Regions from separate parts of the Homo sapiens genome. Here all the other regions are linked to region 1. Evidence: fine-mapped expression QTL. A gene starts in region 1. Each other region holds a variant in brackets. All regions are shown on one strand. Distances are between the middles of the regions.

The links.
Region 2: its variant is fine-mapped to the expression of BTBD10 in whole blood (INTERVAL, PIP 0.99).
Region 3: its variant is fine-mapped to the expression of BTBD10 in blood mononuclear cells (TOPMed, PIP 0.91).

Annotation. Positions count from the first base shown.
Region 1 is chr11:13,459,447-13,465,890 of GRCh38, reverse strand. It overlaps BTBD10 (BTB domain containing 10), which reads left to right and starts at 2,669. Exons shown (of 9, transcript NM_032320.7): 1 at 2,669-2,799. RefSeq lists an enhancer at 2,300-2,489.
Region 2 is chr11:13,564,235-13,570,678 of GRCh38, reverse strand. No RefSeq gene overlaps it. Among named protein-coding and RNA genes, the nearest start is that of PTH, 71 kb to the right of the region's middle. The variant C/T (reference allele first, on the strand shown) is at 3,216.
Region 3 is chr11:13,378,214-13,384,657 of GRCh38, reverse strand. It overlaps BMAL1 (basic helix-loop-helix ARNT like 1), which reads right to left. Exons shown (of 20, transcript NM_001297719.2): 17 at 6,213-6,321; 18 at 3,404-3,497. Among named protein-coding and RNA genes, the nearest start is that of BTBD10, 82 kb to the left of the region's middle. The variant A/G (reference allele first, on the strand shown) is at 3,070.

The DNA of each region.
Region 1 (6,444 bases):
TGAACCTTAGCCTATGCAGTCAGCTAGCATTTACAAATTATCGTGTAGAGCAGATTTGTGATTATCTAAATCTATGGCATTACCTACCAAATGTATAACTGTTACCAGTGCTACTGTGCTACTACCTTAATATTTGAAAGGTTAATTATCTCTTTTTTTTTTTTTGAAACGGAGTCTCGCTCTGTCGCCCAGGCTGGAGTGCAGTGGCACAAGCTCTGCTCACTGCAAGCTCCGCTTCCCGGATTCACACCATTCTCCTGCCTCAGCCTCCCAAGTAGCTGGGACCACAAGCGCCTGCCACCACCCCCGGGTAATTTTCTGTATTTTTAGTAGAGACGGGGTTTCACCATGTTAGCCAGGATGGTCTGGATCTCCTGACCCCGTGATCTGCCCGCCTCGACCTTTCAAAATGCTGGGATTACAGGCGCGAGCCTCCGAACCCGGCCGATTAATTTTCTTTTAAAGCAAAGAACAGTAGAAACTTTATTCGATTTTCTATTTTCTCCCAACTCCCATTCTCTTTTGTTTTTGAAGAACAGCAGAATGAAATGAGCTCCAGGACCCATCCAAGTAGGATATGATGGTTTGAACAGATTCCAGCATGGAACAAAGTTTCCATATTTTGCCTGAAGTCTTTCATTCATATGATTCTTCTAATGCTTCCTGGAAAATTCCAAGAACTTGATGTGAAATTATGCTTAACAGAACACCCAATTGGCCTATGGCAGGTGCATTAGTCCATTCTTGCACTGCTATAAAACAAAGAGGTTTAACTGGCTCACGGCTCCGCAGGCTGTACAGGAAGTCCGACGGCTTCTGCTGGGCTTCTGGGGAGGCCTCAGGAAGCTTACAATCATGGCAGAAAGCCAAGGTACAGCAGGCACGTCTTATATGGTGGGAGGAGTGGGGCGGGGGTGGGGGGGCGCCACACACTTTTAAAGAACAGATTTCACCAGAACTCACTATCACCAGAATGGCAAAAACAGGGAAATCTGCCCCCATGATCCAACGACCTCCAACACTGGGGATTACAATTCCACATGAGAGGTCAGGTGGGGACATAGATCCAAACCGTATCAGCAGGGTTAGAATAACTTTTTTGTTTTCCTCCTAAGTGTTGGGCTTATTCGTAGGGAGAGTATGGTAAGCCAAATAAAACTATAGTATACATAGTATTTTTCATATAGTATACATATTTTTATATGTAATATGAAAATAATGTGTCCAAAGGAAGGTGAGTGGAAACTACAGCAAAATACCAGAGTCTTTCTTTAGAAAAGGACAGCTTCTATTTTGATGTAAGAGTATGGCTCCTCATTAGCCCTAACTTGGACTACAGAATGACTTCTTCTGAGCAGAGCTTATAGGAGAAAATTTTGATAATAAATCAGGACTGATGACGTTTTTGTTTTTTGCCTGAGAATTTTCTCAGAGTTTCTCTGAGAAACTGTATCACAAAATTCCTATTAGATTGCTCTTATGTAGACAACTTGAAATTATTGGCAATTTCCAATTTAGCAAAATGTTGGCTATAATAACTTAGTGAATTACGACAATAACCCGTTTCTCTTAGGTTTCTGATATTTAAGTGTCCTTACAGGAGAAAGATGAAGTTATCTTATAATTGTCCAGCTCAACTGCTCATCTTCTTAGCATAAACACTGATTTGGAAAATACTTTGCGTATCACACGTAGGAGCCTGGGAATGTTCTCATCCGAACTAAACAGTGGTTAAAGGTTTTTCAACAAAGTTCTTGCTGCAATATCTGTTTTCATACCCAATTACTCAAACCAGGTCCTCTTCCTCTTTGCTTCCTCTCCTTGCAATGCCCTTCCCTCTCTTCCCTAAACTGGAGAACTTACTTATGCTTAAGATTCAGCGCAATTGTCACTCCCAGGTGAAGGCTTTCTCAACAAGGCCTCCCCGTCTGCTCCCAGAGCTCATGGCAAGCAGCTCGGCTTTTATCAGAGAATAATGGGATTATCTATTTTCCTGTAGGTCTTGCCCCGGGGGTGTAAGCTTCGAAGGCGGAGACTGTGTCTTTTACATTTTTTCCCGTTTTTATTGCCCAGCCAGCCCATGTAGGTGACTCTCGGTGTTTCCTAGGCGGCCAAACTGAAGGAGTTTCAGCTGGCACAGGGGTTCCCGCCAACCGAGCGTTTAAAAATAAGCAGCGGGGGACGTTAGGGAACAGAGGGTGTCCCTCACGACGACCGACTCTCATCAGGTCCACGCCGGCAGAAGCGATTTTGCAGTTTGCTTTGATGAGGAAAACGCTCTCCCTGAAGAGTCCCTGCACTATTTCTCCAACTCTGTGACCGAGACGCTGTCCACTTTTCTCTAACGGTGACAGGAAGTCAAGGGGAAAACGTGGGATTCAAAGGTTTGAAGGTAACAGCCCTCAGCCACTCGGGCTCGAGGCCCGCGGTTGACCCGAGCTGATGTCTGTGAGGAGAGGTCGCGCGGCGCCTTCCTCTCCACGCGCCTGAGATCCCACCCGTGGCCGCCGCGCCCTCAACTGCCTTCTCCTTCGGTGCCCCGCCCACCCCTGGGCGGAGAGCACCGTTCTCGCGAGAACGCTGCTGGCCTCGCCTCTTCGCATTGTGAGCTCTCGCGGTAAGAGGCTGAGGAGCCGGCCTGCAACCTGCCGGGGCGGCTCCGCTACGCGCAGCCGCCTCAGTGGCTTCCTCCACAGCCACCTCCGGAGGGATCTGGCTGAGGAGGAAGTGGAGGTGTCACTGGCCCCGGCCTTTGCCCCAATCTTGTGTGGGCACTGAAGGGGGACTACAGGTTCGAGAGTGAGTGGACTCAGCTGGGGAACTCGGCGGGGGCGGCGCGGGAGGCTGGGCTTGGCCGGGGCGAAAGAGGAAAGGGGCGGAGGGCGAATCTGGGCGTGAGAGCCAGGCTGCTGCGGCGGTGGTCTGGGCGGCCGGACCCTGCTCGGGTACCGTGGGTGGCGTTTTGGGCTCCGGCCACGAGCACCCAATTAGGAGAGGCCGGGATAAGACTTGAGTTTTGCGGCTGCTGCTTTTGGGTTGGGAGTCCGGGGGCCTTTCTCCGGGGATGAAGGCGATACCCTCATCCCTTTCCAGGGCAGAGGAACCCCGTGCCCCGCCCCTTTCCTGTCATCTCAGACGAACGCAGCGACATCCTGAGGAAGGCGCATCACAATAGGGGATAAGGTGGTGGGCAGCCTCCCTCTGGGTGAAGAGGAGTGAGACCCCACTAACGTGCTGCGTGGTTTTATGTTGTAACCATTTTACGTGTGGTAAAGCTTTGTTTTCTTAAAACTTGCACGGAAAAGGTTCTGATGTCTTTCTTCTTCAGATGCAGGTGCCCTGACACCCTTATCTTTGGGAATGGGGCGGGGGAAGGTGAGACATCGGTTAGTAATTTGTTAGTGTGGGCCAGTGTGACTGTCCCTGGGCCTCACAGATTTCCTGCTTCTCCTTTCTCAGTATTCTGAGTCCATGATGAAAAGTCACTAGTCCAGACATGCTGAAAGATAGAGCTTCACTTGCTTGTGGCTTTGTGCACTTAGTAAACAAGATTATTTTACGAAGATTTATTATCTTGCAGAGTTTTCATGCTTTTTATTTAAATTAGCAATCTAAATGAAACAGCACAGGATATTAATTGTATTTGGACAACTGAGTTCCTTCCCGCCCCTATCCTCCCAACCCCCCAACTACACAAATTTGATCAAAATCTTTTAGAGAGGGGGTTAGGGATAAATTTTCAATGAAAGAGACTGTGGAAATCGGAATAAGAGATATAATAAAGAATGCAGCCATAACGGCCAAAAGAGTTTCTGTATTAGAGAGCCTGTCCAGGATTGAAGTTCAGTCCTGAAACCCAGGACTGCAGTTGTCATTTGAATATAAAGCGGAAAGCAGTAGAAAATACTTGGGAAGGGATTTGAAAGTGGACCAAGACTGGTAAAAAAAAAAAAAAAAAAAGTGTGAGAAGAATTATTTCTGATGATGTAAATGTGTTTTATAAATTTTCCCAATATTTCTCAGCGTGTATGACCTAACAGCTATTATATTAATACATACAAAGTAGGAAGGAAGTTTCTGAAGCATGGAATGTGGTAAGGAACCACCAGAGAGTAACAGTGTTCAATCAGGAAAGCTTTTAGTGTTTCAACAATGTTTTTGTGTTCGTTCACCTTTTTTCTCACTCCCAGAAAAGCTTTCAGATAGACTTCTAACCCTATGTAATTATGTTACCCTTCCACCAGTCTGAATTTTCTTCTTTCTCACTCCCTCTAAGCCATGTGAATTTTTTAAATTATTAACTATGGAGTTGCAAACCACTGTGGTCTGCTTTTGGCTTTTTATAATAGGTGACTTAGGGAAGTATGGAAGTGATATGGAAAATATTGTGCACCTTTCAAAGCCATAGCATGAGCAACAAACTCACATGCCTTCGGGTACTAGTTAGATAATGAAAATGAGGGAAATGCACTATGCCTTATCAGAGAGACATCCAAGTCTCAGGTCCCCCTAATCAGTGCTATATAAGAATATGGACCCCATCTTCAGCATTCTCAAGAGAACTCGGAAATCTAGATTTTTGCATTCAGTGTCTTGCGTCTTAAAAATATTGACAACTAATTAAAACCATTAAAAATATCATGTGACTGAATCAAATCCAAACCTGTCCATAGTTGTATTCTCCTCTCCAGTTTAGAAGCTCTGTTATAAATCAAAATTAATAAATTTTATGACTGGAAAAAAAGGAGGTTTAAAGCAAGTTTGGAGTTTCAAACTTAAGGGGTCTTGGGAAAAATGTCACATCTAATTGAAAACAGTAGTTAAGTTTAATAGCCTTTAAGTATAGTTATAGTAGGGCAATTTGAACTGGTATTTACTATAAACGTTTTAACTGTGGAAATAACTGAAGAAAAAGCATCTCAGTATTTATGGTTTAAAAACTCAGAGTTCTGAGCAAAGCTGATTTATAGGTATCTTGTACAGAAATTGAATTATTTAGAAGCTCTTTATTGTATTTGCAGCTAATATATAAAATTAAATACAAGAGACCCTCTACAGTCCATTTCAGGATTTGAATGTTTATTGTTTGCTGTGCTATCCCACATTGTCTTCCTAGGCATTGACTTACTGGAAGAAATACTGATCCCTTGGATTTTATTCCATGCCAGATGGAGATTGGAGGGGTTTGGCAACAGGATGGAAAGAACTGGGTGGAGAAAGTGTGATGTGAAGCAAACACTCTTGTGCCCCTTCCTTACATTGTTCATTAAAAGATTGATTTGTGTTAGTTTTTCTTGTAAGAAGGATAGGTATATTAATTGATTAAACTTAGTGCCTTATACATAGTAGAGTTTAATGACGTGTGGAATTGACCTTTGTGGATTAAGCCTCATTTACCCATTAATGTGAAGTAATTTAATCACATAATCTGATTCATACCTAGTTGGGTTATGGGGAATGGGAGTGCTAGAGGTCAAAGCTAAGTAAGAGGTGTTTTTTAGGCATATAGAGGGCAAGTTGGGGGTCTTCACTTGGGATAAGGGTGAGAGAGGAAGTTAGGTAAGGGAGAGAATTTTGAAAAGGAAGATGAAATGATTAAGTACCCATTTGTGTATTGTGCAGTTTTAAAAAGAGGTCTGCCTTTTGTGGCTAAATTTATCATAACTTGTGCAGAGACTACATAGAATACTGGTTTTTAATCAGGACTGCTATGGGAATTTGCAGATTTTCTTTTCTTCATTTTAGCTCAGTCATCTCAGGCCAAGCTAGGCTAATATCTGTTCATTCAATCTCTGCCTCTCTCTGAAATAGGAAATGAAAGAAGAGGAGATATGTATTATGTTTGTGAGGTGCTCCTGTTGAAGAGTTATAAGACTACTTCTGAGGAATTTGTTTTATATTTGAGAAGATTGTGCTTGTTGAAGGGGGAACCATTATTTTCGTCTTTACTTGTTTCTACCATGACTCATAAAGTAGGAAGTTCTTTTTTGGAAATAGCTTTCCGCTTCTTCCCATCCCCTGAGTTGCCATCCCAAAGGAGGATCAGGGGAGGCTAAGGGAAGGGATTGAGTATACTTTTGTTCAGTGCCTTATGATTCAATTTTTGGGACTCTCAATTCTTAGGCTATACATTGTCTATTCATTTGTATGGTAGGCTTATCTGAGCAGGCTGGACTACTAATACTATGAGGGAGAAGGAAATGGAATGCCTACAGTTCTAACTGGGTAAGTTTAATTTGCAGTTGAAGTAATAAGGGTTTTTGCACGTTGGATTTAGTTATATTTTTACCATCATCTGTTTGGATCCTTTATTTTTTGTTGATTCTGAACCGAAAGTAAGGCGGGTCAGGAAGATACAGATGTTACCTTCTCCTGTTAATGGAGAAAGAACTATTAAAATTTTTCTCCCTTTTTAATAGATTCTTCATCAGGGTTCAAGCCAAT
Region 2 (6,444 bases), 100 kb before region 1:
TGCCTGGGTAAAACCAGCAGAGGCTGCAGAACAGCAGATATTGCTGCCCAATCCTTCCTCTGGAAGCTTCATCCCAGAGGGGCACCCGCCTGTATGAGGCATCTGCCAGCCACTACTGGGAGGCATCTCCCAGTCAGGCTACACGAGGGTCAGGAACCCACTTGACGAGGCAGTCTATCCATTCTCGGAGCTCAAACACCATGCTGGGAGAACAACTGCTCTCTTCAGAGCTGTCAGACAGGGACATTTAAGTCTGCAGAAGTTTCTGCTGCCTTTTGTTCAGCTATGCCCTACCCACAGAGGTGGAGTCTAGAGAGGCAGTAGGCCTTGCTGAGCTGCGGTGGGCTCTGCCCAGTTCGAGCTTCACAGCAGCTTTGTTTACCTACTGAAGCCTCAGCAATGGTGGACACCCCTCCCCCGCCAGGCTGCAGCCTCACAGGTTGATCTCAGGCTGCTGTGCTAGCAGTGAGCAAGGCTCCATAGGCGTGGGACTTGCTGAGCCAGGCATGGGAGAGAATCTCCTGGTCTGCCAGTTGCTAAGACCATGGGAAAAGTGCAGTATTTGGGTTGGCGTATCCTGTTTTTCCAGGTATACCTTATCACAGTTTCCCTTGGCCAGGAAATGGAAATCCCCTGACCTCTTGCACTTCCCGGGTGAGGCAATGCCCTACCCTGCTTCGGCTCACCCTCTCTGGGCTGCACCCACTGTCCAACCAGTCCCAATGAGATGAACCAGGTACCTCAGTTGGAAATACAGAAATCACCCATCTTCTGCATCGATCACGCTGGGAGCTGCAGACCAGAGCTCTTCCTATTTGGACATCTTGGTATGGACCAATGTATTTTTAACTTTTATCAAGTCTAATTAATCCATTTTCTTTTATGTTTAACATTTTGATTTTTTGTGAAGTTTTTAAAACATATTATGGTAAAAAACATAACATTTACCATCTTAACCATTTTTCAGAATAAAGTTCTGTGGTGTTAAGTATACTCATACTATTGTGAATCAGATTTCAAAAACTTTTTTGTCTTGCAAATCTGCAACCATATACTCCTTAAACAACAACCTACCTCTTCCCCGTCTGTCCAGCCCCTGGTAACCACCATTCTACTTTCTGTCTCAATGAATTTGAATAATGCAGATAGCTCATGTAAGTAGAATCATACCGTGTTTATGTTCTTGTGACTGGCTTGTCTCACTTAAAATAATATCCTTCAGGTTCATCCATGTTACAGCATGTGACAGGATTTCCATCCTCTTTAAGGCTAAATAATATTGCATTGTATGTATACGCCACATTGTATTTATGCATTCATCTGTTGAGAGACATTTGGTTTGCTTCCACCGCTTGTCTATTTTGAATTGTGCTGCTTATGACCATGGGTGTACAAATATCTTTTCAAGACCCTTGGATCATATGGTAGTTCTATTTTTAATTTTTTGAGGAACCGCCACACTGTTTTCCACAGCAGTTGTACCATTTTACAATCCCACCAATCGGGCACAGACTTCTGATTTCACCACATCCTTGCCAACACTTTTTATCTTTGTTTTTTGTTTTTTTTCTTTTCCTGATAGTAGCCATCCTAATGGATGTGAGTTTGTTTAATGCCATTATGTTAATATAACTCAGATTGGATTGTGTACATCCAAGTTTTCTGTGCATAACAGTTTTTCTGGAAGCAGAAAGAGACCTAGTGGAGAATTAGTGACATAGAGGAGGTGGCATAAGTATACTAGGGCTTTAATGGAATATATTCTTGAGAAATTATTACACCAAGGAGGAGACTATACTAATGTATTAATTTAGCTATAACATGGAATTAGGTTTTGTTAGAATTTTCAATTACTTTCATCAATATTTTTCTACAACAGTTGGCATTGCTAGCCTATGAAACACAGTATGTTAGTGTACAATGAGCAGAAGGTTTGGAGCTTGAAGGTACAGAAGTCAACTTCTCTGGCTCAGAAGTGCTTACTGTCTGTGCCTAACTACACTGTTAAGTACATCTGGCCATCTAAGCCCATTACCATCTGTTAGTGATCCACCTCTTAGTGTTACTCACTCAGTCACTGGACTGTGCCAGCCCCTTGTTCACCTCACCTTCCTGCTCATCTACATTTGCTTTAAAATATGACCGACTATATAATCATACCTGTTTTCTTAATCATTTCTAAAACTAGCCTTGCTAGCTGGTGCTTCTCAACAAAGCTGCAACTTGCTTTGTGCCAGAATGTTATTTGTAGATCTGTTATTTAGCAGTGTCTGCTTAGTGATCATTTTTAGGTTTGCCCCAAGCAAAATAAATTTGAATAGCAAAGAACATTTCTTCATGCATTTGATCATGATTGAGAATGGGCTACAGTAGCACTTAAATACTTGGTAGACTTTTATCAGTGATGGTAATGTGGCAAGATCCTGAAATATACCCTTTGGCACAACCAGAATGTAACCCCCTCAAAATGTAACATTAATGTATTGAGCATATACTTTATATATTCATCTTTGGATTCTTACTAGTTTACTTCTCCTTACCTCAAGTAAAAAATCTTTATACAATAAACATAGTAGGTAAAACAGGCTAAGCATGGTGGCTCATGCCTGTAATCCCAGCACTTTGGGAGGCTGAGACAGGAGGATCACTTGAACCCAGGGATTTGAGACCAGTCTGGGCAACATAGTGAGACCCTATCTCTACAAAAAATTAAAAAATTAGCTGGGCATGCTGGTGCACACCTGTAGTTCCAGCTATTCAGGAGGCTGAGATGGGAAGATCACTTGAGCCCAGGAGGATGAGGCTGCAGTGAGCTGTGATTGCACCACCACACTCCAGCCTGGGTGATAGAGTAAGGCTCTGTCTCTAAAAGGAAAAAAAAAATGAAAACAGACTATCTAGGTTTGTACCCTGGCTCTGCCACTTCTCAGCTGTGTGACTCAGGCAAATTACTTGATCTGTTTCTGTCTCAGTTTCTTTATTGGTAAATGAGGATAGCAACAGTATGTACCTTATAGAGGTCCTGTGAAGGATCAGGTGTAAAATGTTTGTGGATAGCAAGTGATTAATAAGTGCTAGCTGTTTATTACTCTTCTAATTATAAAAATTACATATCTTCATTGTTCTAAAAATTCAACAATATAACAAATTTAAAAAAATAAAATAAATCCCCCAAATTATTCCATGACTGTTAGCATTTTAGTGAAAAATCCTTC[C/T]GGTCATATTTCTTCGTACATGTGTGATGTGCAGAATCTGAAATTTATAGCACAGGAGGAAAAATTACAGTAAGCTCCACTGGTGCCTCCAAGAGGGATGAGTTTCATATCCTTCTTTGATATTCACTTATTTAGTGTGGCAGTCAACTGGTCTTTCAGACAACAGTGCCTATGACCATCAAAACAGAGTGGGCAGTGGTCTGGCTTCTTCACTGAAGTTAGGGTTAGGAAGATTTAGAATCTATGGGCAGTAGATATCAACCTCTGCACTATTTCGGTTTTTATGAGGGAAATCTTGTGATCTAGTGAGTGTTGTGTATGTGAACAATGGAAGAATCCGCCCCTAAAGAGCTATAATTTGGGAAGTCAAGGGCTACTTTGGAAAGTAGTGGTACATTTGAACCCTCAAGTTCTCCTAGCAATGACAAAGTGTGCTCACTTAGACAACTCATTTAAGAGTTCTGTCATTTGGAGCGAGACTCCATCTCAAAAAAAAGAAAAAAAGAATTCTGTTATATAAGGAATAATCTAACTTTGTACATTCCAGCAAACTAAACCCAAAGCTAGTAGAAGGAAGAAAATAATAAAGATTAGGCTGGGTGAGGTGGTTTACACCTGTAATCTCAGCACTTTGAGAGGCCCAGTTGGGAGGATCACTTGAGCTCAAGGAGTTCAAGACCAGCCTGGGCAACACAGCAAGACCTTGTCTCTACTAAAAAGAAAAAATAAGCTGGACATGGTGGCATGCACCTGTAGTCCCATCTACTTGGGAGGCTGAGATGGAAGGATCCCTTGAGCCCAAGAGATCAAGGTTGCAGTGAACTATTGTCATGCCACTGTAGTCCAGCCTTGAGACAGAGGGAGACCTGTCTCAAGAAAAAAAAAAAAGAAAGAAACTAAAAGTTGGTTTCATGAAAAGAGATGTGAAACAAAATTGACATGAAAGAACGTCATTAAGGAAAACTATTTTCTGCTGAGCTGAGTAGAATAGAACTAGCGTTATAATTTGAACAGTAAAGGAAATTTGAATTTATGTTATACCCAGCCAAATGAAGAGGACATACTTATTACTGATCTTGTGACTCATTGTACATAAATGGGATCATGCTGCTTTATATATGCTGCTTTATAACTTGCTTTTTCCCTCTCAATAGTATGTTGTAGAGATCTTTCCATGAAGTAAATGTATAAATGTATGTCTGTATCATCATTTTAAAAATTTGTTCTGTGCTGGGCACGGTGGCTCACGCCTGTAATCTTAGCACTTTGAGAGGCCAAGGTGGGTGGATCACGAGGTCAGGAGATTGAGACCTTCCTGGCCAACATGGTGAAACCCTGTCTCTACTAAAAATACAAAAATTAGCTGGGCATGGTGGTGCGTGCCTGTAGTCCCAGCTACTCAGGAGGCTGAGGCAGGAGAATCGCTTGAACCTAGGAGGCGGAGGTTGCAGTGAGCCGAGATTGTGCCACTGCACTCCAGCCTGGGGACAGAGCGAGACTCCATCTCAAAAAAAAAATAAAAAAATAAAAATAAAAAAATCTGTTTTGCAGCATTCCATTATGTGTATAGTATAAACTGCCCCACAGATCAGCATATAAATAGAGTGATGGTCTGTGTTTTTGTTTTTTGTTTTTTTTTCCCCCAAGTAAATAGCTATCCGCATCCTCTAGATTAACAGAAGGTTCAAGATCTCTTGGTAGAGCTTCCTACTCTTCTGGAACTGGCTGAAAGTCTAGGGCCTTACATAGTCTAAAAGGTATGTCATTTGACTTCTATTTCCCAGCACAGTGGTGTTGCTTCTCCTCCCTTTGTCCTCCCCAGTTCTTCCGCTGATATCTTGTGCATATGGTCTGACCCAAGATCTGTTCTGCCTTAGTTCCCAAACTTTATAAGATTAAAGAATTATGAAATAATATCAAATATACATATCTGAAAGGATTTAGTAACATTTATCTTCCCAATCCAGGAATCCTAATATAGTTTAATGAGTCTCTGGGTTGCTCTCAAATCTCCAAAGACAATACATTCCAGTGATCCATTTTGATGCCCCTGAGCTGTGGTGTTCCCTCCTCTCAGCCTGAACTCCAGCTACACTGCCTTACTCTTGCCAATGCCCTCTTCCTGGAGACTTCGTATCTGTTCCCTGTCTGGTGACTGTAGCTTGACTGATGGGGCCCTCAAAAGTCTACTTGGATTATGGCTGAGCTCGTCCTTCAGATATAATGCCTTGTGTGCTTGGTTTCTCCACCTGTCAGTCCAAGGAGTCCTAAGTGATGACTGAGATATGTCCCTGGCAGAGAATACTAAGCAAGATAGTTTGATCAGGAAAAAGAATAGATCTTCAGGTCCAAAACTGAGCAGGAATGTTCCAGATTCTTGTTTTTCTCTTTTTTTCTTTCTTCCCCAACTTCCAGTTTGCTGTGTCAATTCAGCTCATTCTGACTCTAGACAGTTTCTTTTTAAGGTTTGCCTACCTTTGCCTCACAGAGAAAAGGTGCTCAAGAATGACATGGACAATTAGGGATATGAGGACCCTTAGGGCTGTGAGGATTGTTAGACATCATCCAACCCAATCCCCTTATTAGAAATATGAGAAATACCAGGCTCCCAAGTGTCTAATGATTGTACAGCTACTTAGTGTAGCTAAGTGGTAGAGTAAGGGCTTAAACTCAGATCTGGACTTATATGCTCTTTATGGTTACTTGATGAATTGAGTTAGCAAGAATTGCCAAAGAAGTTCTTATTTAAGCAACAATAAATGCTATCTATAAGTCAGGAGCTGGGCCAAATGCATTTATATTACCTGATTTCATCTTCGTACTACTCTATGAGAGGCTTGAAGAGTTTTAGTAATTTGCCAAAGGCTACAATGGATTATAAGTGGTGATGCTAGGATTTGAAATTACATCACTGGATGCCAAATCCAGGATTCCTAGAGGAAAAACTACTGTTGCTCAGTCTACCTATGCTTAATCTCACAGGTATGCTCAAATACTCATTGTAAAAACTGAATGAACAGTTCCCTCTCTTCAACCACACTCAGCGAAAAGAAACATTATTTGTTCATGAAAGTCAGGGATTTCCCTCCTGCTAGGGAACTGGAGCTTCTAGTCCTTGGCTACTGAAAGTGTGGTCCTTGCACTAGAAGCATTGGCATCTACTTTGAGCCTATTGGAAATGTAGACTATCAGACCTTACCCCAGACCTCTAAAAATACAATCTGAGTAT
Region 3 (6,444 bases), 81 kb after region 1:
GTCTATTTAGATACGTCTTGTGATTCAAGTATATGAAGGAAATCCAACCTCCCACAGATAAGTAGTTGGAAAAGGGAGGCATATTTTAATAGACTTTTCAAATAATTGTATTCTTTTTTGATACCACTTCAAAACTTGACACGTAGAAGTTTCTTAAAGGTGAGTTGCAATGTGGAATCTGAAACCATATCAATGAATGTTTTGTACTCTTTATATCTTGGCACTTAGGATGGATCTTTTACCCTTACATGATTTTGAAATACCTTGCATTGTTTAGTTACAAAATATTGGTTCACTGAGTTATGCAGATCTTCTATATATTGACACATTTCATTATAGAGCATCAAAATATCACTATTATTAATACTCCCTATCTCATCAACAACATTTTTTAAGTTTTAGGAAGATCTCAAGGTCAAAGTAGCAGAGACAAGTTTTCTAAAAATTCCAATTTTTGCTTGAAAGCTCAGATTTTATCATTGGCAACAAATGTCAGTCATTTTCCTTAAAGTGACAGGTTCACTTCATTCATTTCCAAAAAAAAAGTATTCTAAATACCCAAAACCGAATGACCATATACAATAAAAATGGTGTCCAATGAAAATAGTAGCTAGTTCAACTCACAACTTAATCACACAAGTAGTTTTTGAGACAAACATCATACTTTGGTATGCAGCACAAGTTCTGTGTACTTCTCATTTTGTCACAGAGCATTAAAAAGATGTGTGCTTGAGAATTTTATAAAAGTAATGATGGACATTTTCCCTCCCTCCCTCACTCCCTTCCTTCCTTTCCTCCTTCCCTCCTTGATAGGGTCTCACTCTGGTTGCCCAGGCTGGAGTACAGTGGCACAATCTCAGCTCACTGCAGCCTCAACCTCCTGGGCTCAGGTGATTCTCCCACCTCAGTCCCCGGAGTAGCTGGGATTACAGGTACACCACCACACCTGGATAATTTTTTTTGTATTTTTTAGTAGAGATGGGATTTCTCTATGTTGCCCAGACTTGCCTGGAACTGCTGGACTCAAGCAGTTTGCCTGCCTCAGCTTCCCAGAGTGCTGAGATTACAGGGGTGAGCCACTGCACCTAGCCATGATGGACAATCTTAAATGAAACTGGCTTTAAACTATTTTTTTACTGTGAGTGTGTGGTGGTGAAGAATACAATGACTACTAGTATAGTTTGGTGCCACTTGTCTGATTTTTGTAAAATGCCAGCAATTTTACCCAACCGTGCTTTTAGTATGAATAGTGCACATTATCAATACAGGGAAAAAATTAACGTTTTAATGTTATTAAGAAAATAGCTTTAACCTTGCAGACCCTTAAAAGGATCTTGTGCCCCCTCTCTTTCTGGAAAAAGACTGCAGATGACATTTGTAGAACTGCTGCTTTATCTGAATTTTCCTTAGTGCTTCTGGATGTCTGTACTCTCTTGCGACCTATGGAGGCTCACTTAGGCTTCCTTTTTAGCTTGATCCTGACAAACAACTGCAGGCTAAATGGTTCATTTTTGGACCTTCCAAATTTGAAAGTGACTGGAAAGGGCTGGGTATGGTGCACCATTTAATACTGCTGTCAGTTTTAACTGTCTTGTTTAAGCTGCTTTTCTTATAAGTCCTGCTGCCCAGGACTCATCTCGTGAGAACACATCCAAATTTCTTCTCACAGATCCATTTTATAATCCATTCTTCTCAAAGAAAAGGGAGAATTTTCATAAGTGCCTCAAAAATAGCTGGGGCTTTATGATGCAGAGCACAGCTTTTGATTTCTGGTAGTTGTTGATGTGAAAAGAATTGGAAGCCATGAGCCCAGGATTGTAGCCTGGGGGCCATACTTATAAAACGAACGCTGAGGAGCCTGGATCTTGTCACTATAATGTTGTGAAGGTGAGATGAGACAATGTATATGAAAGTTCTTTGAGTAATATTTAAGCCTATACTGGACTGATAACCTTTCAAAACCAAGAAGTAGAATCCTTGGTAATACCAGGAGTCAAGTCAAGTGCCTAAAAGTTAACTTAAGAAGCAGAGACTGGAAGACCACCCTAAGAAGATGGTGGATCCAATATGCAGGAAGGACCTGGAGGTATAACAGAAGAACAGCTAAGAAGACAGCTGGCAAGCAGTGTGTGTGTTGTGGGCAGGGGGGCGGGGGTCACGGGACACCAAGCTCAGACTTCATCTGTCAGTGGTATTTTGGGCCAAGCACTTTCACATATATTATCTCACAGTAGGACCTCGTGCAAAGATGCTGGCTACCCTAACCATTATTAGCTCCATTATAAAGAAAACTAGGGCTTGAAAGTTGTACAAGTTCACATAACTAGCACATGGCAAGGCCAAGCTTCGAACCCAGGTCTTACTTTGTAGTCTTACCCATTAATTTGTTAACTTTCAACCTTTTTTGGGGGGAGCAAAACGCTTTTTCAAATAGAAATGTTTGCAGAAGATTCCTGTATAAAAAAGAAGTATTGCTGCCCTTGTAGAAGCAGGATTTCTACTCTTACCCTCTCTCCTTAGCAACTATCCCCACGCCCATCCCACCTGGTAACACCACAGCTCTTGGTAACCTGAACAAACCTCCGAGGAGCTCAGTTTTGAAAATCCTTGCCCTGCTTTTGATGGTTTGTGCCCTAGGAGTCCTGCCTATGGAAATTCCTGATATTCTCTCTCTCTGTTTTAGGAGATGGGGAAAGGAAGCCATTGTGTCCAAAATGATGGCCTTTAAACTGTCCTAAGCTCTACTGGCATCAGGCAATATAAACAGATTTATAATTTACGATTAAGATGGGCCTAGGCTTATAAGTTCTCCAGCAAAGATGAAAACAAATGACTGGTTCCTAAACCTATTTATAGTGTAGTCTTATAGCAAGCTCTTCATGAGGGCTGGTGATTGATCCACTGCTTGGATCCAATGCTGTCACACCAATGGAACCCCCAGGCAGCAGATCCCCAAGTATTCTGCAGCTATAAAGCATGGCTTGATTTCCAAAGCACTGCTGGTGGCATTGCTGTTTCCATTGCCTGCCCTAGACACTAATATTTTCTCCCTTGAAAATTCCTGGCAGA[A/G]AATGAGAAACTTTTCTATGTGAGGTACTCAATAATCTTTCCCTCATGGGAACTCTTGAATTGCTCCCTCAATTAAATGAACTGACAGTTCCCCATTCCTTATTCTTTCTCCCTTCTTCCACTCACATGGAAGAAAGCCTCTGAGGATGTCAGCAAGCCTCCCTAGCCCTACCAGTATGCTTTGTATCCAGCCTCACACAGATGCATTTACTTCAAGGAGGAAGTAGTCCAAATTGTTTCAGCAATCGCAGTTGCAATTCCATACTCCCACCCCCAACATTTCAGATCTTGGGCAAGAGGTTCTCTAGCTTAGGCTAAGAATCATCAGTCTTACCTTCTTGCCTCCTGGAGAAGAGGCATCAGGGGGAGGCGTACTCGTGATGTTCAATGGGCTGGAGCCACAGCTAGAAGGCGATGACCCTCTTATCCTGTCAGAAAAGAGAATTACACTGCCTTTTCTTTTTTCAGTGGAGTGTATGTGCTTTGTTAAGGGGTAAAGGTGAGAAAGGGGATGAAGATCTAGATTAGGGTTTGGCAAGCTTTTTCTGTAAGGGGCCAGATAGTAGGCTCTCTAGGCCATATGGTGTCTTGTCACAAATGCTCAACTCTGCCTCTGCAGCTTGAAAGCAGCCACAGATACGAATCGGTGTGGCTGTGTTCCAATAAAACTTTATTTACAAAAACAGATGACAAGCTGGATTTGTTCTACAGGCACCTGATCTAGAATGCAGTCCCTAGAGTCAAGCATCTCACTGACAAAGCCCTTGGATTGGAGTTTGCATTCAGTTGGTGAATTTCAAGTAAGTGGCCAGTTTTATTTCCTCACAGAATCCAGGTGAATTGGAGGAGAACTTCTAAGATCAACCTCCATCTTTGATCCACAGAAAACAATTTGTCCCCTTCTCCACAAACACTGTTTAGCTAGTGAATACTCTTAGGACATGGACGGCACCAGGGTCTAAAAGGTAGCCTAGTAGTAGTGACAGGAAAAGCAGCCTTCGAAGGCAGTGGTTGATGAAAAATGGGTCCAGGCCTTTCTTATCTAGCATATCTCTCAGAAGATTTATAGAAGGGAAGACTTAGAACTGTAAATCCACCTAAATACTTGTCAGGCTGAAGGACCTCAGGAAAGAATCCATCACTTGGCATTGCAGCTACAGTTTAGGGAGAGTGTGATGGCAGTTGTGTAACCACAGGACTCTCAGCTCCTACATGGATGAATGTAGCTTTTGGGTGACCCAGAGACCACTCCTCCACCACCCAGAAGTCTTTTGGTTCTTGTACTGCCTAGTTCTCTAGATTTATGAGTGAACAAGTTTTCTTTCTGGATTAGAAGCTTCTTAACGGCAGTTTACAACTACATATCATGTATTCTCAGCATGCACAAACGGCTGCTAATTGCTTACGGAAAAATTGCTGAGTGTCCCCCACCTTTCTCTACTTATGTCTATGAAACCACTATTTTCCCAGGTTTCTCATCTTGGAATTGCTGTTTCATCATTCCTGATTTCATCTTCAAACGCTAGACCTTAGATGATTGATTTCTCTTTTGGCAGTGTCATCTCTGTAGGATAAGGCCTCATTCCTGAGTTGTCAAACATGCCCACCTTCATCTCTCCCTATTCCAATGCAACTTCCACAAAGCGTAACACAAGACTTTGGATGCTTGTTCAGCATCCTACAACAAATGGGGTCTTACAGGTTTCTTCCAAACTGCACAGTATCATTTCTTGTGTTTCTTAATCGCCTATCATAGCTCTGTGTCTCCTTCCTACACAAAGCCTGCCCAGTTAGGTAGCTTGTTTCTTGACCCTGAATTTGCCACTCACATGCCCACTCAAGAATAGCCCTGGCTTTTCTAGAGGGAACATCCACTCTTATTGCAAACCCTGGCTAAGGCCAAGTTCAAATCTTTCCTCTTTTGCTTGCTTTGGCCCATGCACCCTCCCTTTTTCCTGTTATCATAAAGAAAATAGACTTATAAAAGATTTTAAAATTCTTGAGGTCAAGGACTGTTTGATACTGTTCTTGGATGGTCTCAAGCAAAATACAGGGTATGCAAATGCAAAGTATAGGGTTTGAACCTGATTACACTGCACACTACCCTCATGTCTCCTTCCTGATGCAGAAGTCACACCCACTAATCCTGTGGGGTTGGAAAAGAGCTGTGTTACCTATAGGGGGATAACAGCCCCTTTATGGCCAATTGGAAAACAGGCCAGCCTCTAATTCTCCTGAGAGAATCCAGCGGCAGCAGTGTTTTCTTCCTTTTCTTATGTTACATTAAGTTTCGTTCTGAAGAATCTGGTTACCACCTTCTCTATTCCCCAAATTTGGACAGACTTATGATAACTGCTTCCCTCTCGACTGCTCTTAAAGACAGATTTAATTAATTTTTAAGCACTCACTATATGTCAGGCTGTGTTCCTGGAACTTTCCTGAGTGCCCTCACAATCCTAACACAATTCTTGGGAAATAGTGCTTTCTTTTTATGGTTTAAATCAACAGAGAGCAAGAGGTTAAGTAAGTCTCAGCATAGCCAGGTAGAGAGACAGGCCCAGGACTCAGACCCAGGTGGACTGCTTCTAAGCTCCTTCTCTTTCATATGGAAAGGAAGTCTCTCCCAAGACAGCTAGTAATAACTAGCTGATCTGCTTGGTTTCTAGTACTAATCCTGGGCAGCTCTTTGATTGAAAAAAAGTGAATGTTTTGTTAAGGTCCAGATCACTCTGATAGTTCACAGCTCTACTCCTGCATTCCTGTAAAGTAAAGGTACATCTATCCGCACTGAGAAGCTCCTTGAGCCATAAGAAAGTTAAGTCTTCTCAAGAATTCTCTTTAGCGCTGGGCTATTTTGGTTTAGCTTCTTTATTTAAGGCAGGATTTCTTAATCTAGGCACTACTAACATTTTGGATTGGATAATTCTTTGTTGGGTGGGGAGGAGGGAACTGTCCTGTTTACTGTAGGATGTTTAACAAGCAGCATCCCTGGTCTCTATCCACAGGATGTTTAAGTAGCAACCTCCCACCCAGTTGTGAAGACCAAAAATGTCTCCTGACATTGCAAAATATTGCCTGGGGGAAAAAATTTCCCTGGGTTGAGAACCACTGGTTTAACAGAGGAACTAGAAGGTGTTACTTGCCTGTGGATTTCCATGATTTCCTCAGCAATCATTCGGCCTATTTTTCCTGCCCCAGCCCGGGTTCCCCCTGGAATCCCTGGAACAGTGGGGTGGGTCCTCTTTGGGCCACCTACAACAAAGGAATCTGAGAGTAGGAAAGGGGAAAACTGAGGAAGAAATACTATTATGTATTAAAGTAAAACCAGTTTATCCCATGATCCATTTGCAGTTCAACATCAGAGTTGTGCCTTGA